Linked DNA regions of Homo sapiens: all the other regions are linked to region 1. Evidence: fine-mapped expression QTL. A gene starts in region 1. Each other region holds a variant in brackets. All regions are shown on one strand. Distances are from middle to middle.

The links.
Region 2: its variant is fine-mapped to the expression of VPS35L in blood mononuclear cells (TOPMed, PIP 0.93).
Region 3: its variant is fine-mapped to the expression of VPS35L in monocytes (Quach 2016, PIP 0.95).

Annotation. Positions count from the first base shown.
Region 1 is chr16:19,551,244-19,559,596 of GRCh38, reverse strand. VPS35L (VPS35 endosomal protein sorting factor like) reads right to left here and starts at 3,894. Exons shown (of 31, transcript NM_020314.7): 1 at 3,851-3,894. The coding sequence starts at 3,867. It overlaps CCP110 (centriolar coiled-coil protein 110), which reads right to left. Exons shown (of 14, transcript NM_001323572.2): 14 at 6,189-8,353. The coding sequence ends at 8,326. RefSeq lists enhancers at 3,210-3,439, 3,298-4,260, 3,820-4,299.
Region 2 is chr16:19,607,022-19,615,021 of GRCh38, reverse strand. VPS35L (VPS35 endosomal protein sorting factor like) reads right to left here. Exons shown (of 31, transcript NM_020314.7): 10 at 6,748-6,844; 11 at 6,001-6,048; 12 at 4,607-4,700. Among named protein-coding and RNA genes, the nearest start is that of VPS35L, 55 kb to the right of the region's middle. RefSeq lists an enhancer at 4,601-5,800. The variant T/A (reference allele first, on the strand shown) is at 4,244.
Region 3 is chr16:19,664,744-19,672,743 of GRCh38, reverse strand. It overlaps VPS35L (VPS35 endosomal protein sorting factor like), which reads right to left. Exons shown (of 31, transcript NM_020314.7): 27 at 3,445-3,584. Among named protein-coding and RNA genes, the nearest start is that of KNOP1, 49 kb to the left of the region's middle. The variant T/ACT (reference allele first, on the strand shown) is at 4,153.

The DNA.
Region 1 (8,353 bases):
TCCCTAAGTCTGAGATGTTAAAGCATTTTCTTTAATCTCTGGGTCTTTGGTAAGGCTAACAGCGACCTCTTGTGGGCATTTTCTCAAAAATCATTCCTTTTCTTTTTGCTAACATAGTTGATATAAACTGGTAAAAATTCCCCATAATTCCAACCCCCAGTAATGTAAAGGGCTTGTCTGGATCACTGGCACCTGCCACAGGAAAAAAGGCCACCATTTCACACCTCCACTATTGGCTGGGCTTAGCCCTTGGCTATTCAAAATGTGGTTCACAGATCACCAGCAATGACATCACCTGGGCGGGCTGAAATACCCCAGGCCTACAGAATCAGATCTGCATTTTAACTAAATCCTCAGGTGGTTTATATGCACATTAAAGGTTGACAATGGCCTATTTTTAAATTATTTACCTCTGATAATATGGATACACAGAAATCCCACTATGATTAACCAAATTAATCTCCTTATACTGGAAACACCAAAATCCACTAAATGCTTTGCTCAACTATTTTAATTCTCAAATAAGTTTTTGGTTACTAATCACATAATCGGACCACACAGCTTTTTCTTCCACAATCACAATATTACCCAGCCCCCTTCACCGCTACACATAAAAAAAACTCTTAAAATGATGTAGAGATTCTGACTCCAAGGGTTGTTTTTTTTTTTTTTTTGAGACGGAGTCTCACTGTGTCATCCAGGCTGGAGTGCAGTGGCGCGATCTCAGCTCACTGCAACCTCTGCCTCCTGGGTTCAAGCAATTCTCCTGCCTCAGCCTCTGGACTAGCTGGGACTGCAGGCACCCGTCACCACGCCTGAGGAATTTTTTTTTTTTTCTAGTAGAGACAGGGTTTCACTATGTTGGTCAGGCTGGTCTTGAACTCCGGACATCAAGTGATCCACCCGCCTCAGCCTCCCAAAGTGCTGGGATTAGAGGCATGAACCACCTTGCCCGGTCCAAAGGGTGGTATTTCCAAGTGTGCTATAACCACAGGATTAAACGGAAAATGTGATCTAGGGTATACAGGACATCTCATCTCCTAGCCAGGCCAAAATATAGCAGGGATAGCAAAAACTGTGGGTAAAAAGAGGCATTCCTGGGGAGACCCATGACAAGGCAGTGGGATTTGGGGAACCCCGCAAGCCAGAAACCTCAGCCCAGGATATAGATTTGAAGTCCAGCTGATGAGGATGATTACTATCATAGCCTCTGGCTTCCAAACCTCAGCTATCCCTTGTGGGGCTAATTTAAGTAAACTGCTTCATCTCTCTGCCTCTATTTCTTCCTCCGCAACATGGGGTTGTTATAAGAACCTAATGATGTTACATGTTACGCACTTTACGAGTGATGTCTGACAGAAAATAAGGACTTGATAAATGTAAATTTAATGACAGAAACTCATTTCTCCTCTGCAGTCCTCCTCAGTTTCCTCATTCATTCATAAATATTATTCAGCACTCACCATTATGTTCTAGGCTCCACATACAAAGATGGACAAAACTCAGTCCCTTTAACTTTTTTTTTTTGAGACGGAGTCTCGCTTAGTAGCTCAGGCTGGAGTGCAATGGCACGATCTTGGCTCACTGCAACCTCCGCCTCCTGGGATCAAGTGATTCTCCCGGGATCAAGCGATTCTCCCACTTCAGCCTCCTAAGTAGCTGGGATTACAGGAACCTGCCGTCATGCCTGGCTACTTTTTGTATTTTTGTGGAGACGGGCTTTCACCACGTTGGGCAGGCTGGTCTTGGAACTCCTGACCTCAGGTGGTCCGCCTGCCTCGGCCTCCCAAAGTGCTGGGATTACAGGCATGAGTGACCGCGCCCAGCCAGTCCTTTTAACTTTTAAGGAGCAAGAAGTCTATTAGGGAAACTGAAAGATGAATGCATACTTCAAAAGGAAATGTTCAGAGCACGGGCCGGGTGTGGTAGCTCACGCCTGTAATCCCAGCACTTTGGGAACCCGAGGTCGGCGGATCACTTAAGGTCAGGAGTTCGAGACCAGCCTGGCCAACATGATGAAACACCGTCTCTACTAAAAATACAAAAATTAGCCTGGTGTGGTGGCATCGCCTGTAATCCCAGCTACTCGGGAGAGTGAGGCAAAGAATCACTTGAGCCGGGAGGCGGAGGTTGCGGTGAGCCAAGATCACGCCACTGCAATCAAGCCTGGGCGAGACTCCGTCTCAACAAAAACAACAACAACAAAATATTTAGAGCACGGCCATATTAGGAACTATAGAGACCCTAAATACTAAAAGCGTTATGGCACCTGTTTGCCTGCTTGTAATATAAAATTAAAATTCCAAAGGTAGAAATGTACTGGGATGCAGAGATTAAGACAGCATCTTCCTGGATTTTCTGATTGCAAACTTCAGATAAATCCACTGAAGTCAAATGTTTCTCATGTTTTTGGTTAGCTTTTTGGTCAAGCCAGCATGACTTTTTCATTTTTTATTATTATTTTTTTGAGACAGAGTCTCACTGTTGCCCAGGCTGGAGTGCAGTGGCATGATCTCGGTTCACTCCAGCTTCCGCCTCCCAGGTTCAAGCGACTCTCCTGCCTCACCCTCCCAAGTAGCTGGGATTACAGGTGCGTGCCACCACTAATTTAGCCCAGCTAATTTTTGTATTTTTAGTAGAGATTAGGTTTCGCCATGTTGGCCAGGCTGGTCTCGAACCCCTGACCTCAGGTGATCCGCCAGCCTCGGCCTCCCAAAGTGCTGGGATTACAGGCGTGAGCCACCATACCCAGCCAGCATGACTATTAACTGAAAAAAAAAAAAAAACCTCAGGGTGTGGAAGTGCTCAGAGGCATTCAATGCTGATGTAGCGTGTCAAGGAAGCAGTCTCTTAAGTGTTGGGCAAATGAAAGGAATAAGACAAAATGAAGTGTTTATCAAGCTCAAAAGCAGAAGGTTGTACCTGATTATTTCTAAGGTCTTTCATTTGCTCATTTAATCTAAGCTACTTCACATCATTTGAAGAGAAAGTAAATTATCTCGCTTTCTGAGATGCAGGAGAGATTCCCCGTCCCCAAATCCCACTATCATCAACAACACAACTTCCTCAAGTTCTTCACTCACACACATACCACCTGCTGAACCCTGAAGCTTCAGTCACTCATTCCTAGCTACTCCAACCACAAGGGACCTACGGGCCTGCCAACCAGGCACACGCCACGCCCTCCCTATGGTGGACTCCTATTCATCCTCCAAGACCCAATTTAACTCCTCCTCTCTGAAGCCTTCCCCTAGCCCCCTGGTGGGGATAATCACTCCCTTCTTGGTGCCTCATCCGAATGCCTTCTTTAGACATCCCTCTACTGTGCGTCTGCCCCATTATACTGTCAGCTCCTTGAGGCCAAGGAATAAGTCTGAGGGCTGTGCCTAGGATAGGATGAATGGCGGCCATTTTACAGATGAGAAAAGCAAGTCTCCAGGTGAACAGAGGAGCTGAGGAAACTGACCAACAGCCAGATCTCCCGACTCGTCCAGACTTTAAAAGCTGAGTCCACCATTACCCTCATCCAGCGACCCCAGAACCCGCGCCAACTTCTGGGGACGCGGAAGCCTGGAAACTCAAGTTTTCTTTAGGGAATGAATGGACAGGGGCCCGTGGAAGGCGCAGAGAGGCAGCAGACGGGGAGAGAACCAAGAACCCGCCAGTCTGGCTTCAGATTGCTCCGCTGGACCGCGGTAGCGGCCAGGGATTCTACGGTCAAGACAACTTGGGGGTGGCCGGTCGACCACCAGAACCCGACAGAGAGGAATTCACACTCTCAGACCCAGGCCGACCCCATCACAAGTAAGGACAGCCCCTCTCCAAAGCCCACCCGCCGCTGCTTCCTTACCAAGGAAAGACGGCCATCTTCCCAGTCACATGACCGCTTGTTCTGGGGCCGTCTGCTCGGCTTCCCATCCTTACCCCGCCACTCCCCGCACCCCTCGGCCGCCATGTTTGTGAAGGGCAGCTGGCCGCCCCGCAGCGGCCGCACAGCACCTTCTGCAGACGCCATGCTTGTGAGGGGCAGGCGACGCTCCGCACAGCACAGGCTTCATTTTCAGCTGACGCCATGCTTGTGAGGGGCAGCTCCCCGCTCCGGACAGCCCGGGTTACAACTCCCGCCGGCGCCATGCTTCGGAGGAGCAACGTCGGCCACGGCCAGAGTGCCGTAGTTTCTATGAGTCATGATTGTAAAGGGCAGCTGTCTACAGTGCCGGGTGGTCCCGCCTGCGGGCGTCATGATGGTAAAGGGCATGACTGCTGCTTAGCTCACCTGCGTCCTCTAGGGGCAGAAAGGACTCCAGAAGGCGGCGGAGCGAAGACGCAAACTGAGGTTCAGCCAGTACCTGGTTTTGCGGCTAATACGCTGTTTGGCGTGGGACAGCCATGCCCCCTCTAGGCCGCTGCTTTACCCACTGCTTTGCGGGCGGTTTTAGACACTTGCAGAATGCCCTTCCCACGACTAGCAACCGAGGGCTGCCCTAGATCTAATATGATTGACTACAGCTAATGCACGTGGGGAAATTAGGGTTCGCATTTCGTCCAACTTGGCAAAGCAGTGTTTCTAGGAAGGTGGATATCCATTTCGACCACAGAACGTTTTTAAAAATTATTTTAGGCCGGGAGCGGTGGCTCAGGCCTATGATCCCAGAACTTCGGGAGGCCGAGGTGGGTGGTTCACCTGATGTCAGGAGTTCGGGACCAGCCTGGCCAACATGGTGAAACCCCGTCTCTACTAAAAAATACAAAAACTAGTTGGGTATGGTGGCGGGCGCCTGTAATCCCAGCTACTCGGGAGGCTGAGGCAGGAGAATTGCTCCAACCCGGGAGGATGAGGTTGCAGTGAGCCGAGATTGCGCCATTGCACTCCAGCCTGGGCTACAAGAGCGAAACTCCATCTCAAAAAAAAATTTTTTTTTTAATTATTACTTTTATAACTTACTTAGATATCCATTATGGTCCCTTAGAGAGAAAGCATTCGATGTTTTTATAACTCTTACTTTTCATTCGGGGGTGGTGGTCTGTGGTTGTTCATGAGATGGTGACCTATGACAGGGAAAAGGATCATCTCCAGAACGGGCCCTCCAGTGTTCAGCTCAGTATGAGTAGGAAAGTATATCCACTCGTACCTGCTATTCCCAACACTGGAAGTGAACAAGGGTTAAAGGGTGGCCACGGGAAAGCAAGGAGCTCTTCCCATACAGCCATGCATGTTATCACATGCAACATCTCAATAAGAGGTCAAGGTGAGGAGCCTTTTCCTAGGCTCACACTGCATGATTAGGCAGTAACAAGAGGAGGATTCTTAAAGTTGTGCAAATTAACAGCTTTGATGTGAGCTTCAACCTTCGCATTCTCTTTTCTCCCTCTCCTTCCCTTAGCAGGCTTCTATCTCTTAATAAGTTAAGACATTTCCAGCCTGAGTTTTACCTTCTGAAAAGTCCAACTTTTAGTAGAGACGGGGTTTCACTATGTTGGCCAGGCTGGTCTCAAACTCCTGACCTCAGGTGATCCTCCCGCCTTGGCCTCCCAAAGTGTTGGGATTACAGGCGTGAGCCACTGCACCTGGCCCAGGGGACATATTAAATAATGAGATATATCTTTCATGGAACTTGTAAAGAATGATTATATACAATATTTGTTTTGGCCTAATACTTTTCAATATCTGTTTCTTTTTTCTTTTTTGTTTTGGAGACAAAGTCTCATTCAGGCTGGAGTGCAGTGGTGCGATTATAGCTCACTGCCACCTGTAACTCCTGGGTTCAAGTGATCCTCCTGCCTCAGCCTCCAGCGTACCTAGGACTACAGATGTGAACCACCATGCCTGGCTAATATCGGTTTCTTTTTTGTTTTGTTTTGAGATGGAGTCTTGCTCTGTCACCCAGGCTGCAGTGCAGTGGCACAATCTCGGCTCACTATAGCCTCCCCATCCCAGGCTCAGGCGATTCTCCTGCTTCAGCCTCCCAAGTAGCTGGAACTACAGGCATGCACCACTACGCCCAGCTAATTTTGTATTTTTAGTAGAGACGGGGTTTCACCATGTTAGCCAGGCTGATCTCAAACTCCTGATCTCATGATCCACCCACCTTGGCCTCCCAAAGTGCTAGAATTACAGGCATGAGCCACCATGCCCGGCCTATTTCTTAATAGTCCTTCCCCTGGTAAATAAAAACAATCAAACTAGATTTTCTTTAAGATGAAAAGTTTATTTTGCTTTTTGCCTAGAAGCAAAACTAGTGAAAATAAAAGTATAAAAATAAATACAATTTACATTAATGAACATTCCACTCAAAGTAAAAATAAGCAAAAAAAGTATATAAATAAAAATCCATCAAAAGCACAAACAGTGTCTGGCACCTGTATGAGAAGAAGCTATGAACACCAAAAAAGAATGTGTAAAACACAGGCTTTTATCTTTAAATTAAAAACACTCAAGTTTCTCATCCTTACTCTAAAGCTAGTTTTAACTTTCTCCAAAACTATTTGTTTTAACTAATTTGCATTACACACACAAAAAGTGCACAAAACTTTTAGCATCTTTCTTACTGGAGAGACCCACAATGCTATGAATAAGCTGTATCCTGAGTTTTCAGAATGATAAAGCACAGTTTATCATATTAAGAAGACAATTTGATACTTTGCCTATAAATTTTAAAAAATTGGTAACTTGGACTTTTTTTGACCATCTTCTAATTTTCTGGTTCACTCATTCAATACATGATACATCTCAATAAAGAAAATCAAGTTTACACCCAGGGTGGCTTATTATTTCTGTCTATAGCTGGATGTCAAAGTTAAATTTAAAATGGCACAGAAAATTGGAGAAAACAATCTTCATCTCCATATTCTTAAAAGGATATTAAGAATATATATAGGTTGCATTTTCAAAATACCAGTATCTCTTTAAAATTTAAATTAGATTAAATATACACTGTCTCAATTTTATGTGAAAAGCACAAAGCCCTTTTTGGAAATGGTATGATAAATTAATAGTGACATTCTCCCTCATGAAGTCACGTTATCTTGGTAACATTTGTTGGTTGATACTTTTTTTTTTTTTTTTTTTTGAGACAGTGTCTTGCTCTGTTAACCCGACTGGAGTGCAATGGCACAGTCTCAGCTCACTGCAACCTCTGCCTCCCAGGTTCAAGCAATTCGCCTGTCTCAGCCTCCCAAGTAGCTGGAACTACAGGCATGCACCACCATGCCTAATTTTTGTATTTTCAGTACAGATGGGGTTTCGCCATGTTTGGTCAGGCTGGTCTCAAACTCCTGACCTCAGGTGATCCACCCACCTTGGCCTCACAAAATGCTGGGAGTACAGGCGTGAGCCACCCTGCCTGGCCAGTTGATACTTTTAATGGATATGTTAGTGATGAAAAATCTTAAACATGGGTGTCTTTAAGCAATGCAGAATTTTAACCAGGCAATATTCTTATCCGGAAATCTGGATTTATTATTATATAGCCCTTTATTCTCTCCTAAATCAAGCATGCTAGAAAAAACAGACTATGAAGAACAAAATATACAGACTAAATAGAAAATATAACTGCATGCAACATATTATTATGTTACAGAAATGGATGTAATAATGCATTCCCAAGAGCTACATTCAAGAAGATTGTGCTGTCTTCCCCAAATTTGTTACCTGTCACAGAAAGATCTTATAACCTAGTACAAATGTTTCTAACAGTACTGGGGTAACATACATGAAGCCTAACATTTCTGTCAGACAACTAGTTGTCTGACAGGAATGTATGCTTCTGACCAAAATGGTGACCCACATTAACTTCTGTAGATTTTAGTGGGCCACAATTGGCTACATGGTTATACTGTAAGTCAAAGAAAGTGGACATTGAGTGGTTAATCCAAGTTTTTAAAGTTATAAAATGAGGGAAAGGCATTCTTCTGCAATAATTTCCCTTTGAATCAAATTCAAAAATCACTATGCAGAGATGAATTAAATTTATGTTTTAGAACTTATTTATAATTTGTCTTATCTTTTCAATATTCTGTAAAAGTAAATCCAAATGTCCTTGACATTTACAAAAAGGGTCTCTGTAGACATCTGGGCATATAAAATAAACTTATGTTTGTATAGGTAAGCACAGAGATGATGCAATTACTAAACACTAATTTGTCTTCACCCAAACGTATTATTAAGAGGAAAATAGGGGTGTGGAGCAGGAATTACCAAACTGACCAAATGATCCAGATAAGTGCTCAGCCTTCTGATGTCACTTTGTCTGTGTAAACGGAGTCCAGGGTTAAATAAAGTCTTGGGCAGGGAAAATAACATGAATAATAATCCTTCCCCCCATTTTATCCTAATGAATGTTGTCTTCTTAAA
Region 2 (8,000 bases), 56 kb before region 1:
GAGATAAGAGCAGACATAAATTTTAATACATTTTATGCAATTTTATATAACATGAGCATGAAGTGTAACAATGCTATAATCCACTGGGTCCTGACTTCATTGTTAAAAAACAGACTGTAACATTTCTAGCTGAAGAAATTTACTAATCATAGAGAAGGTGCCAGTACTGGGGTTAGATGGAAAAGTAGAGGGATGAGCTACGGAGGGGAGTTCATAGGTTTAAAACACAACATCACAGTGTTTCTTAAACTGAGCTCCTCAGAAATGCTTCGTTTCCAAATTGCTGCTTAACCGCAAAAACAACTTCGTAGGCTGGGCTGCAGTGGCTCACACCTGTAATCCCAGCACTTTGGGAGGCCCAGGTGGGCCAATCACTTGAGGTTAGGAGTTTGAGACCAGCCTGGTCAACATGGTGAAACTCTTTCTGTACTAAAAACACAAAAATTAGCCGGGTGTGGTGGCGCACGCCTGTAGACCCAGCTACCTGGGAGGTTGAGGTGGGAGGATCGCTTGAACCCGGGAGGTGGTGGTTGCAGTGAGCAAGATTGTGCCACTGCACTCCAGCCTGGGCAACAAAGTGAGACTGGTTCCCTATTTCTTCAAATGGGGAGAGATTTCTCCCATTCACCTTCCACTACCCAGAGGTCATGATGGGTAACACTAATAATGTTTTTCAGATGGCATTTGAGAACCACCAGGGTGTTAAATTCCAAGAGCAGCTCTGTGATTGCTGGGTACAGGAAGTGCTGTTTTCAAGGACAAGCACATAGATTAAATATATATATATATGCTAACAAGAAATATCAGATCCAGTTCTACAGTGTTCTGATTCTCCTTCCACTTAATCATATTGTAGAAAAGACAATAATTATCTGTTAGGTGACAGCAAAGGCTGGCCTGGTGGCTGAGCCATGGAGATGAGCTGAAGCGGCTGTGAGTTAGGAGTTAATCATACCTTCCTTTAATAACAGCTTCAAGCTCCCCCCACGCTCTACCCACTCAGAGCTTTTGTTTTCTGTTTTTCTCTTCTCATCGGGCCAAATGAGCAGCTTGGATATCTGCTTGGGTCTAAAAGATTTCTACCCAGAGCAGCAAGGGTATTGCTCATGATTCCCATCTGCTGTTTCGGCCTGCCCAGCATTCATCCCCCCCATTGCTGGTATCGGCAAATTAGATTTGTCTCTGGGGAATCAAACCTTCCTCTTGGACCATGAGGTTTGTGGTGGAGCTAGATCCACCTCACCCTGAGCTCCATGCAAGGGCATGTGACCCAGTCAGTAAGTACCCAGACACCAACCCCAGACCCCAACCCATGGCCACGTGACTAGTCTAGGGGTGGACAAACAACCCGAGGTAATCCACCAAGAATCAGCCCTGAGGCTCTGGCTAGATCTACTGGCAAGAAGACACACTTTCCAATAAGGTTCCTAAGGTGGTAGGATGGAAGCCAGAGGCCGCTATGGGCCATCATATAAAAAAAGCAAGCCACAGAATGAAGCCAACTCAAAGAACAGCAGAGCTGAGTGATGTGGGGAGAGGCTGATTCTTGACAGCACCCTTTGAGGGCCTGCATCCAGCCATGCCTGCACTAACCCTGGCCTCTCCAGACACTGGCCAGTAAGTTCTTACTTTTGCTTAAAGTAGTATGAACTGGGTTTTGCCACTTGGAACTGAAAGAAATCTTACTAATACACAGGCTGTCTCTTTTTGTTTGTTTGTTTGAGGCAGTCTTGCTCTGTCACCCAGGCTGGAGTGCAGTGGCGCGATCTTGGCTCACTGCAACCTCTGCCTCCTGGGTTCAAGTGATTCTCGTGCCTCAGCCTTCCGAGTAGCTGGGACTACAGGCGTGTACCACCACGCCCGGCTAATTTTTTGTATTTTTTAGTAGAGACAGGTTTTTGCCATGTTGGCCAGGTTGGTCTTGAACTCCTGACCTCAAGTGATCTGCCCGCCTCGGCCTCCCAAAATGCTGGGATTACAGGCATGAGCCACCGCGCTTGGTCTCTCTTACTCTTTTAATGTTAAAGAGACTTTTAGAAACTACCCAACCAGCGGAATCAATGCATTGCCTGGACTGACAAAAATGATTTCAACAGACGCAGGGCACTCTACTACCAATCTTGTGGGGGGTCTGCTCTGTCCTCTGCATCTTCTCCTCATTGTCACTGTGTTTCAAGTTGCATCTGCCATTCAAAGGCACTTTATATGTAACAAACATGATCGTGTACCCTAACTCACATACCTGATCTCAAACATTAAAAGGGAACAGGCTTGCAAAAAATACATACTTCCCCACATTCTGATTTCTCTTTAATAACCAGAATTATTTGCAGAAGAGACAGCATGATTCTAAGTCTTTATCACCGGGTCTCCGATATCAGGCCTTATTCAAATGATGTCAAGGTGTGTTCAAAGCATTTGCTATGTTCTACAAGGTAAAAGGCAGCAGAGAAGAAATACATAAACAAGGCTGGGCACGGGGGCTCACACCTGTAATCCCAGCAATTTGTGAGGCCGGGGAAGGCAGATTACCTGAAGTGAGGAGTTCAAGACCAGCCTAGCCAACATGGTGACACCCTGTCACTACTAAAAATACAAAAAGTAGCTGGGCATGGTGGCAGGTGCCTGTAATCCCAGCTACTCCGGAGGCTGAGACATGAGAATCGCTTGAACCCAGGAGGCAGAGGTTGCAGTGAGCTGAGATTGCACCACTGCACTCCAGCCTGGGCAACAGAGTGAGACTCTGGTGCAAAAAAACAAAACAAAACAAAACAAAACAAAAAAAGGCCGGGTGCAGTGGCTCATGCCTGCAAACCCAGCACTTTGAGAGGCCGGGGCAGGCGGATCATGAGGTCAAGAGATTGAGACCATCATGGCCAACATGGTGAAACCCCGTCTCTACTAAAAATACGAAAATTAGCTGGGCGTGGTAGCGCACACCTGGAGTCCCAGCTACTCGGGAGGCTGCAGCAGAAGAATTGCTTGAACCCTGGAGGCAGAGGTTAGAGCGAGCTGAGATCACACCACTGCACTCCAGCCGGGCGACAGAGTGAGACTCCATCTCAAAAAAAAAAAAAGGAAAAAGAAATATGCAAACAATATCTTTGCATCTCTCCCAGAGGATGTGGCATTGTGTTCTGTGCACAGTAGGGCCTCAGCAAACACTGACTTGGGAGGAGTATTCAAGCTTTAATATATTCAAAAGTTGTCCTTGGAAACACACCTGATATCTCTGGATGGAAAATCCCCCCCAGGTTTCAAGCAGTGGGCGATGCATACACACTTTGGCCTCTGCTGCAAAGAGGGAAGAGGATGCCCTTAAACGAAAGGCTTTTTCTTTCATTCTCAGTATCAAGAAACAGACCTATAAAAAGTGCCCTTCCTAATGGATATCTGCTCCTCACTCTGAGGGCACTGACTTAGTTTTTCGTGAAACTTGAGAGACCACAGGGCTTCCGACATTTGCTGGCTGTCATGCAGAAGAGGCAAATCACAGGCTACATGTTCTCGCCTTCTGATTTAATAAGGTGCAAACTCATGGGGGAGGCTCTAACTGCAGCTTTGTCCTCAAGGAAGTCTGGGGCTTATCAGGTGCAATGATCCCTCTCTAAGGATGTGCAATACTGATGGGACGATAGGGAAGATTCTCGTTGCTAGGGGGAGTCCTGACAGAGGCAAAGCCCCTGTGTGAGCTGAAGAAAACTATGGAGAGACCATATACTGGCCGGGCGCAGTGGCTCACGCCTGTAATCCCAGCACTTTGGGAGGCCAACGTGGGCAGATCACTTGAGGTCAGGAGTTCGAGACCAGCCTGGCCAACATGGTGAAACCCCATCTCTACTAAATATACAAAACTTAGACGGGCATGGTGGCGGACACCTGTAATCTCAGCTACCCAGGAGGCTGAGACAGGAGAATCATTTGAACCCAGGCGGTGGAGGTTGAAATGAGCCGAGATGGCGCCACTGCACTCCAGCCTGGGCGACACAGTAAGACTCCATCTCCAAAAAAAAGAAAGACCATATAACCTCCATTGGTTACATTTTTTCCATACACAAAAAACTTAATAGCTTAGCTGAAGCCTCACGGTGCTTTAAAGCAGGGCATGGGCAAGTAATTTCTAATCAGTCCCTCTACCCCCTTTCACAGCAGCCACCTAAGCCAGGCCACACAGACCCTGAGGCCTGCCATCATGTGGGACACTGCTCCCCTGCCAAGCAGAAAACTAATAAAGCAATCAAAG[T/A]CAAGACAAAGGAAGAGCATGTTTGAAGTCAATGAAAAGCAACCTGTTAGCCCAAAGGCCCTGGGAACCTCCTTCCCAGCAAGAACTGAGAAACAATTACTTCTGAAAACCAGTTCATTTGTAAGAAGATGACCTTAAACGTCCCCTAATTAGAGCTACAGTAAGTTGGTCTACTTTAAAATTAATTTTTAAAAGAAACCCTACAGTTCTACTTTCTGTGGCAGAGCCATGATCTAAAATTAGCCACTAATAAAGTCCTTCTCTCAATGACTTGCGGGGTGGTGGGGAAGGAGGGCCCTGTGTGAACATTCAAGGAGACGGGTGGCAGCCGTGCCGTCAAGGGCAGTGACTCGCATGGCCTACCCGGCACAGGTAGGCACGGGCATACACCGACACTAGTGGGTCTCCGATCCCTCTGATCATGCATGTCAACCGGGGCAGGCACTCTGAAATTCCCCTGCAAGAGACAAAAACAGGCCAGCATTATATTCGACGTGAGAACTCGCTGTTCTTTAATTTTTTAAATAAAGATAAAGACTTCCTAAATTTCAGGGAGGGGGGGAAAAATCAAGTTTCAGTAACAAACCAAGGTCAAAGTTTCAGTTTTCTAAGGCAATGTAACAACAGTCTTTCTCTTCTGATACAATTCATTCATTGAATGATTTCTTTCATCGTTATCATTTGCTCAGTGGTGGAGGCTAACCACATTTTTTCCCCAGTCGAGGTCACATTTATTTTATTAATTTTAACAGTTTTTGTCTTCAATTATTTTCCATCGACTGGGCACCCCTTGATCTTCTCTCCACATGTATTTTCGTTTGCCACAGATTTACTGTCCCGTACCCTGTTCCTTCCGTGAATCTCAGGCTGGCATCTGACATCCTCCAACCACCAACAATGTGAATTACAATTTATTTCTCCTGCAACGTATGTCTTCCCTCTGCCTAAGGCATTATCCTCCTCCAACTGGTGAGGCAAAATAATGTTTCTTCAGCCCCCATGTTATTCCCCCAAACTATTCCAGGCAACCCTAGATCCAAATCCAACACACTTGAGATAAATTCTAAATCCAATCGGTAGAGCTATCTGTGGAGCACCATGAATCAGTCACTCCCGGGCTTCAAGGAATTTATTATCTAGCTATCTAACATGACTCAGCATTTCACCTGCTCTGCAGAAAGCAGATCTGGGTCCCCCACGTCCTGTAACTACTCTCAAAACATTGTGATAAATTGAGTGGCATGGACCTAAGCCACTAAGGGCAAAGGCTTCTGCTTCTGACGTCATTTTCATCATCATCATCATCAACAGCAGCCAACATGGAGGATGGGCCCACCGTGTGCCAGGGGTGACTCTCATTGTTGCATGTGTGACCCAAAGGACCCCCTCAGACCTCTTCTTAGGGTCATGTTCCCAGGAGAGGGAGCCAGAGGTTCTGAGGCTGTAAGTAACTTGTTCAAGACCATACAGCTAGTACCAGTACAGCCAAGATTCAAATCCAGTTGAGCTGATCTTCCATGACCTCCTTAACCAACTTCTCCAGGCTTGAGTTTTCCTCTCTCTAATATGGGGATTAGGATGGTGTCTCTACTTCATTCAGTTTTCATTTGGATTCAATGAGAAAAAGAACAGAAGGTGCTTAACACACATTAAGTACTCAGTGAATAATGGCTACTATTACATTGCCATTACTATCTGTGTACACATGGGAGATTTTTAGAAATTTTATGGTTCTAGATTTTACCGAAGAGCCTTACGTTTTGGAGAGGAATTTGTTACATTTCAGGATGGATGCCTCCACGTAACTACAAAAACATCCTGTTAAGGAAGATGTTTTCCAGAAGGTCTACTCCCTATGGAGAAAAGACTAAACTATCCATGAATAGAAGTAGGCGGGTCTTAGGAGATGGGGACCACAGTGGCCCTCAACAATCCAGCGAACTAAGGTAGCTTATGGTTTCTACATATGGTTTTCAAAGTTTCATACTTATTTGAAATAAATTGTGGGAAATGTTATACGTTGATTCATAGTTGCATGCTGAAATATAAACTGGGTTTTGAGCATTTCTAATCAATGCTTTATGGGGAAAGAAAGAACTTTAGGTAACTAAGATGGAATTTATGTATAAGTCAAATTATCTGTTCTTCAATAGTAGCATTTGCCCTGCAAAGCTTGACCCTGTTCTTTCAAGTTCTTGGAATCAGAGAAAACACAAATATGAAGCATTTTAATTGAGAGAATTAAGGTGGGAATGTTCCTCAAGGAAACAAATGCTTGACACATGGCATCGTATTCAAAGTAAAAGACAAAAAACTGGAAAGAGCAAGAGTCCAAGGGTTTCTACAATGTGGCTTGCCCTGTATGTGTTTTCAGGCTAGCAACCGTAACGGGACCAAACTTTCAATAAGAATGTCAGGGCATCCCATCACATGGCTTCTATTAACAGTACAATTCTTTTAGCCTATCTTTAAAATCATCAGACCAAAAAAAAAAAAAAGGATACAATCTTGGAATGAGTTCCCTGATGGAGGCAATCTTGAAAAACCAATTTAGGCATGTTTCCTTGGCCGTGTCATTTGCATTCTCTGGAGAAAAGTGATCTGTAATACAAAAAACAAGATCCATCAGCCCTCCTAAATCTCAGGATCTGTGTGAGTCCCTGGATGGGAATACATTACCCTGGAGCAGAAAAGGGGGTGACTCAGCCTGTTTCTTTCCTTCCAAATATCACTATTAGGAAGTAACTGATGATAACAATAGTTTACACAGACACAGGCTTTCTAAGTGCCAAGTGTCGTTCGCAGTGCTTTACAGACAGCTCACCTGATCCCATATAGCAACCCTCTGAGGTACGTAGTTTTATTATCTTATTTTACAGATGCAGAGACCAAGGCACAGAGGAATGTAGTGACTCACCCAAGGCACACAGCAAGCAAATGTAAGAGTTAGAATTCAACCCAGGCACTCTGGCCCTGCGGCCGACATTCTTAGCCACTGCCTCTAATATAATCCAGAGGTTCTTGGTTACCTACCAGTCACTATGACAACATTGTTGAGAATTCCAGATGCTTTACGGACCTGCGACTGCAACATGAAATGTGATCTAAGCTTTTGCTCTACACATCACAATGGGCCAGAGGAAGGTAAAACAAGGCCTCTGAGGTGAGAAACCAGCCAGAATTATGTTGCCGGCTCACGACTGGCTCCAAGAGAGTCATCTTGTGAAACTGCCAGTTTACTCCATTAGCTATTCTCTTCCTCTTTAATAAAAGAACTCGCATTTTCCTGCAGGACACAGGGCCATCCTTGCAGCTAGGTGTGGTCACGTGGGTCAAGTTCTGGTCCCAGGATATATAAATAGAAGGGCAACTTCTGAGAAGTATCTTTAAGGAAAGGGGCTTGCCTTCCCTCACTTCTTCTTTCTGCTCACTGACTGGAATGCAGACATGACAGCTGGAACCTCTGCAGCCATACTGACCATGAGAGCAACAAGACAGAAGTGAGGATCCTTGGTACCAGGGGCTAGCTGGCCCATCGGCCCTGACCTTCATTACTGTTATTTTGAGTTTTCTGGAACTGGTACCCAAGCTTGATTTTGACATACATATTTTTAAACAGCAGAAATTTATTTCTCACAGTTCTGGACTTGACATACATCTTAAGGAATGGAAGAGAATATGGAGAAATGAAAGAAAAAACACAAAACTTACAAACACCATGAAGGCCTTTGTTAACCTCTCACATGGAAATGATTTC
Region 3 (8,000 bases), 110 kb before region 1:
TGGAGATCTGAAAACAGTGACATCAAGTGTCAAGTGAAGGGGCTCTAGAAAATGCCAGTGCACGCTGCCCCATCTTGGGGTGCCGCCTATCCTCCCTGCAGGACAACAAGAGGCCCCCATCCTGAAGCCATGTCTGCAGTCCTTGAGCCTGGCCTCCTGACCTCGCTCCCCTCTGTCTGAAGACTTGGAATCTGAACAGGGAGAGTCAGAAGCTGAGTCACTTTCTGTTTTCTCAGCTTTACTGAGATATAATTCACATGCCAAACAGTATACCTGCTAAAATGTACAATTCAGTGATTGTCAGGATATTCACAGAGTTGTGCGATCATCAATACAGTCAATTTTGGAACATATCATCACCCCAAAAAGGAACCTGGATCCACTGGAGCTCAGGCACTTTTATGGCTCAAGTTCAGGGTGATGTTTCTCAAATATGGTCCTAGGACCACTTACCCCTGAATCACTGAAGGGGGCTTTTAAAAATGCCCATTTGCCAAACATGGTTGATCCCACCTGTAATCCCAGGTACTGGGGAGGGTGAGGGAGGAGGATTGCTTGAGGCCAGGAGTTCAAGACCAGCCTGGGAAATGTAGTGAGAATGTACCTCTATAAAACATTAAAAAAAAATTAGCCAGGCGTGGTGGCTGGCACATGCCTGTTGGCCCAGCTACTTGGGAGGCTGAGGCAGGAGGATCACTTTAGCCCAGGAGCTCAGCCTAGGCATACAGCAAGACCCCTTCTCAAAATAAAACAATTAGATGATTTTAAAAATGCTGATTTGTGAGCCTATTTCAACCTACTGAGTGAGACTCTGGGAGGGGCCCCAGGAATCTGCATTTTAACAAGAGTCTGAGATTCCCATGCACATTAAGCTCTACCAGCGGTGCTTAATCTGTTCTGTGCCATGCACCCTGCGGCAGCCAGGTGAAGCCTATACACTCCATGGAATACTATTTTTATTTTTTTTGAGATGGAGTCTTGCTCTGTTGCCCAGGCTGGAGTACAGTGGCACAATCTTGGCTCACTACAACCGCTACCTCCCAGGTTCAAGCGATTCTCCTGCCGCAGCCTCCCTGGTAGCTGAGATTACAGGTGCCTGCCACCACTCCTGGCTAATTTTTGTATTTTTAGTAGAGACGGGGTTTTACCATGTTGGCCAGGCTGGTCTCGAACACCTGACCTCAGGTGACCCACCTGCTTCAGCCTCCCAAAGTGTTGGGATTACTGGAGTGAGCCATCATGCCTGGCCCTTGGAATACATTTTTTTTTTTTTTTGAGATGGAGTCTTGCTCTGTTGTCCAGGCTGGAGTGCGGTGGTGCAATCTCGGCTCACTGCAACCTCCGCCTCCTGGGTTCAAGCGATTCTCCTGCCTCAGCCTCCCAAGTAGCTGGGATTGCAGGTGCCCACCACCATGCCCAGCTAATTTTTGTACTTTTAGTAGATACGGGGTTGTGCCATGTTGGCCAGGCTGGTCTCAAACTCCTGACCTCAGGTGATCTGTCCACCTCCGCCTCCCAAAGTGCTGGGATACAGGCATGAGCCACGGTGCCCAGTCCTTGGAATATTATTTTTAATGCAGCAAATAAAACACATAAGACTAAAAAGCAAACCAATTACACTAAAATACAGCTGGCAAAATATTTTTTCAATGCTTCTGTGATACTGTAATCTGTTGCTTCTTTGTGAATGCATTAACAGCTCTAGCAATGGGCTTAATAACTGCTGTGCTTTGAAAGGAAGAAGAACATACACAATCTTCTGAAATATCTTTCACATCTGAAATGTGATGTGAACATATCTGTTGATTTCTTTTGGTGACAAAGTCCCAGCTACTGCTACTACTACTGTGGCTTTTTGCCTGTAATTCATCGAGTGAAAGGTAAATTTCACTCAGAGGTTTGTTAAAATAAAGCTGTCATTTTCCTCATCCAAATTCATGTCACTCTGCCAGACCCCCAGGGAGTAGATGGACTCCAAGTTATAAGGACCCTTGCTAGGGAGGGTCCAGGAATTCCTCCTGCTGGGTCCCGGGAGTGGCCTCATTCTTTCCAACTCAAGCCTGGCTGTACATCTCTTCCATCCCAGGAAAAACCCAGCATCCTTCCAACAATGCCCCTCTTAATTTCTGCTATGTTTAGTTTCTGTTATTTGCCATCAAAAGAACTTTGTCGCCACCTTCTTAGTGCTTTCTAGAAAGTTTACTATGTGCAGAGGCATGGTTCTGACATTGTGAGTACTCACTAACTTAATATTCATGGCAACCCAGAAGTGACAGTTCTTATCCTCATTTTATAGACAAGGAAACTGCAGCCCAGGGATGTTATATTATTGCCCAAGAACGCAGAGCTGGAAGAAGGATGGGCCAGGATTCCATGCTGGACATCTTGGTTCCGAGGCCTGTGCCCTTCCCCACTGGGCGACACCTCTGCCTTGGCAGTATAGAGAGTGCAGTGGACTAAATATTTGTATCCCCCTGCAAATTCATACACGGAGACCCTAATCCCAATGTGATGGGATTTGGAGGTGGGGCCCTTGGGTAGTAATTAGGTCCCAGAGGACCAATTGCTCAAAAGGCCGGAGAGCTTGCCCTTGCTTTTTCTTTCTGTCACATGAGGACATAACGGGAAGATGGGCCTGCAGTCCCAGCTGCTCAGGAGGCTGAGGCGGGAGAATCACTTGAGCCTAGGAGTTCAAGGCTACAGTGAGCTATAACTGCACCACTGCACTCCAGCCTGGGTGACAGAGCAAGACTCCTAAACAAACACACAAAAAGGCCTGGCATGGTGGCTCACACCTGTAATCCCAGCACTCTGGGAGGCCAAGGCAGGTGGATCACCTGAGGTCAGGAGTTCAAGACCAGCCTGAACAACATGGTGAAACTCCATCTCTACTAAAAATACAAAAATTAGCCAGGTGTGGTGGCGGGCGCCTGTAATCCTAGCTACTCAGGAGGCTGAGGCAGGAGAATCACTTGAACCTGGGGGGTGGAGGTTGAAGTGAGCTAAGATCATGCCATTGCACTACAGCCTGGGCAACAGTAGTGAAACTCCATCTCAAAAAAAAAAAAAAGAGAGACAGAAAGAGAGAGAAGATGGTTGTCTGCAACCTGGAAGTGGGTCCTCACTAGAACTCAACCAGACTGGCACCCTGATCTCAGACTTCCAGCTTTAAGAACTCTGAGAAATAAATGTTGTTTAAGACCCCAGTCTATGGCACTTTGTAATAGCAGCCTGAGCTGACATAGTACCTCACCTCTACTATTATAGTATGATCCCCACCCAGCAAGAATAGAAAATTCATTAAGCAATTCAAATACCTAACTGGAAAACCAACACAAAGATACTAGATAGAATGTTCCTGCAGTTTTAGGCCTAAGAACACATATAATATTATAAGGCAGGTGAAAGGAAGACATGTCCTGCGGTTCTGCTGAGGAAACGTACCGGAACTATTAATAAAGTAGAAAAGAAATTGCAGAGGAATTCCAGAAGGAACGATTCCGATGGCCGCATCTTCCCATCAATATTAATCATCTTTGGAACTTCCGGAACAAGGCTTATAGCGGCTTTGAAAAAAGCATCAGCTGCAAGACAGAAGATAAAAGTCAGTATATTAGAACTCTGGGAAATTTAGTTGGCTTTCTTCTTCACGTGGCCTGAAGGCCAGTCCTGAGAGTTAGGTAGAAGCCAGGCCATGCCGAGGGCAGGTCCTAGCAGAAGGTTTCTGCAAACCATGATGGAGCTGGAGGAATATTTGCTTGACAGGGCACTGCTTCAGCTCAGAGAACCTCTGTTAAATTGTCTTTAGATTATTAAGTGAAAAAAGCAGGTCGCAAATTTTTGTAAAAAGTCTAGAAATGACAGTTGCCTGGGCTAAAGCTCAACTTGGATTGGTTCATTGAATTCTCATGTCTACCAGTGCGAGGAAGGTGCTGTCAACACGTGTACTTCACAGACGAGAAATAAGGGAAGGAAAGAGAAGCAATTCATCCTGCAACAGTGTCCTGTGTATGAAGTTCCAGTGTTGGTAGTAGAGCTGCAGCTCAAACCCAGGTCAGTTTGAATCTATTCTAGTGCACACCATTTTTGTTAAATAGCCATCAAAATGTCTGAAGGAACACAGCACACACACACACACACACACACACACAC[T/ACT]CAGCTTAAAGGCTTCTGATTAACATCAGCTCCATAGAATCGTTTGGGAAATGAAGATATTTAAAGAGCTATGAAAAAATCTGTAAAACAAGAAGACTTCAAAGGGAGTAAGAGAGGAAGAAAAGGAGTGGAGAGAGAATGTGTGTGCACAACAGGAGACGGGGTGGAAGGGATGAGGGAGAGCAGGAAGGATGGGAGGTGGAGGGGAAGACGGAGAGGGAGTGAAAGTTCTTTCTAAAACTGCCAAGGTATTGACCGTGAGAAAAAGCCTCAAGGTCAAAACAATCAAAACACTGACCTGACAAATGAAATTTTAAACTACCCGACAAGATCAAATGTTTTCATGGTCCAAATGGACTTCCACTCCAAAACGACTTCCAGTGATGCAAAGAGAACACTGTAGGGGTGAACAGCATCCTGAATTAAAACAGGAACACCGGCCAGCACACCAGAGGGGCAAATGCAACAGCAAATGCTCACTTTCCTGGGAAGAAAGGCCTATGTTTAATGAGAAGAGTATGTGTCTGAAGATGGATGGTGGAGTTTTGCCATCTCTTCCTTCTTCAAAGGAGAGGGAAAAAAAACATGTCACAGAAAGACACTCCTTGTAAAGCTTTCTGAGTCAAGTTAGCTCTGCTCTGGAAGCTTCTTTGCCTGGCTGTCTCCTGAACCCCAAACTCAAACCCCTTCCACATTTATTAAGCCCCAACTGTGAACAGGGTACTGTCATGGGCAGGTAGACAAACAGATGAAAAAAAAGTGAGAGAAAGCGTTGACAACATAAACTGTGGCAATGAGACCAACATAATCATACTAATTAACAACTATTTTTTTTTCTGGTTTTTTTTTTTTTTTTTCCAGACAGGGTCTTGCTCTGTCGCACAGGCTGAAGTGCAACGGTGTGATCTCGACTCACTGCAGCCTCTGCCTCCTGGGCTCCAGCCATCCTCCTACCTCAGCCTCCCCAGTAACTGGGACTACAGGAGTGCACCATCATCCCTGGCTAATTTTTGTATTTTTTGTAGAGATGGGGTTTCACCGTGTTGCCCAAGCTGGTCCCAAACTCCTGAGCTCAAGCGATCTGCCTGACTCGGCCTCCTAAAGTTCTGGGATTACAGGCGTGAGCCACCGCATTGGGCCAACACTTATTTTCTAAGCCTGTTACGTATTTTGGTCTATGAATCCACTTATCTCAATTGTTTTGGGGAGAGACATTAAATATGGGGCTTGAGGAAAAGCCACCTGATGTCCGTTCTGATAGAGAAACCTTCCAGAAAGGGTCAGAGCCTGCAGGGTCTTCTATCTTGTGACCACTAGTAAGACATGGCCCAACCAGGTACGGTAGCTCACGCCTGTAATCTCAGCACTTTGGGAGGCCAGTGGGTCGATCACTTGAGGTCAGGAGTTTGAGACCAGCCTGGCCAATATGGTGAAACCCTGTCTGTACTAAAAATACAAAAATTAGCTGGGCATGGTGGCACATGCCTGTAATTCCAGCTACTCGGGAGGCTGAGGCAGGAGAATCACTTGAACCCGTCGGTCAGAGGTTGCAGTGAGCCGAGCCTGGGCAACAGAGCAATGCTCTGTCTCAAAAAAAAAGAAAGAAAGAAAGAAAGGAAGAAAGGAAGAAAGGAAGAAAGGAAGAAAGGAAGAAAGGAAGAAAGAAAGAAAGAAAGAAAGAAAGAAAGAAAGAAAGAAAGAAAGAAAGAAAGAAAGAAAAACATGGCCCTACTTATGGAACCCACAGGATCTCCTAGGCCCTATCTTTAAGCAGTTCATTTCCTTAGTCCTCCGGCAGTCCCACAGTGAAGTAAGTATATCATGAAACAAGGTTCTCAGTGGGAATGCAAATTCTGCTCAGAGCAACTTGAAAGACCATTTTTTTCTATTTATGTGTTTGTTACTGACTGGCCCAGAGAATGTGCCTATTATTATGCCTCATTAAAAAGAGAGCAGCTTTGTCCCCAGAACTTGGCTCCTCTCACCCACCCCGCCCAGTTTCCACTCTAAAGGACGGAGCTAAAATAAACAGTTATTTAAAGGTTGGGGCATGCAGGGTTCCAAAGCAGATTTTTAGTTCTATCCTCAGAAGACTTGCCCCATATAGAAAATATTGTCTGGAGACTTCTCAATCTTATCTTAAGTAATTAGAAATCAAATCCTACCCCATGTGACAGCAGTTTATCCTTATAGTTTAAAGTTCAGAATAATCATGTCAACTTCATGTAACACTTTGTTTTGTAGCTATTAAGAGCTATGGAAGCTCATTTAAGATATAACGGATTTTTTTTTAAAGACCTACAGAAAAAGGAGAACTCAGATTCCCAGTAGTAAAGAATATTGTCCCCTCTTTGAGTAATACCCCACAAGCACAGGCAACCAAAGCAAAAATGGACAAATGGGATCACATCAACTTAAAAAGCTCCGCACAGCAAAGGAAACAATCAACAAAGTGAAACGAGAACCCACAGAATGGGAGAAAATATTTGCAAACTACCCATCTGATAAAGGATTAATAACCAGAACATAAGGAGCTCAAACAACTCTATAGGAAAAAAAATCTAATAATCAGATTTTAAAAATGGGCAAAAGATTTCAATAGATGTTTCTCAAAAAAAAAAATACAAATGGCAAACAAGCATATGAAAAGGTGCTCAACATCATTGATCAGAGAAATGCAAATGAAAACTATAATGAGATATCATCGAACCCCAGTTAAAATGGCTTTTATCCAAAAGACAGGCAACGACAAATGCTGGTGAGAATGTGGAGAAAAGGGGAACCCTCACACACTGCTGGTGCAAATGTTAAATTAGTACAACTACTACGGAGAACAATTCGGAGGTTTCTGAAAAAGCTAAAAATAGAGCTACCATAGGATCCAGCAATCCCACCACTGGATTTACCCCCAAAAGAAAGGAAATCAGTATATCGAAGAGATATCTGCACTCCTGTTTGTTTTAGCACTGTTCACAATAGCCAAGATTTGGAAGCAATCTAAGTGTCCGTCAACAGACAAACGGATAAAGAAAATGTGGTACATATACACAATGGAGTACTATGCAGCCATAAAAAAGGAGATTCTGTCATTTGCAACAACATGGGTGAAACTGGAGGGCATTATGTTAAGTGAATTAAGCCAGGCACAGGAAGGCAAACTTTGCATGTTCTCACTTATTTGTGGGAGCTAAAAACAAAAACAATTGAACCCATGGAGACAGAGAGTAGAAGGATAGTTACCAGAGGCTGGGAAGGGTAATGGTGGGGCATGGTGGGGAGTGGGAATGGTTACTGCGTACAAAATAAAAATAGAAAGAATGAATAAGACCTAGTATTTGATAGCACAACACAGTGACTCTAGTCAATAATTTAATTGTACATTTAAAAATAACTGAAAGAATATAACTGAATTGTTTGTAGCACACAGGATAAATGCTTGAGGGGATGGATACACCATTCTCTAGGATGTAATTATTATACACTGCCTGCCTGAATCAAAACATCTCATGTACCTTGTAAATATATACACTTACTAAGTACCCACAAAAATTTTTTTAGAAAAGGAAAAAATATATATTGTCCTGGTTCCACTAGAGGAAGGGGAAAAGCAGCAAGTACACGGACTAGGCTTCCTTCATCCAAGTCCTCTGGGGTTCATGGGACATTCATGTTTTTTTGTTTTTTTTTTTTTTTAGATGAACTCTTGCTCTGTTGCCCAGGCTGGAATGCGGTGATGTGATCTCAGCTCACTGCAGCCTCCGCCTCCCGGGTTCAAGCGATTCTCCTGCCTCAGCCTCCCGAGTAGCTAAGACTACAGGCACATGCCACCGTGCCAGGCTAATTTTTGT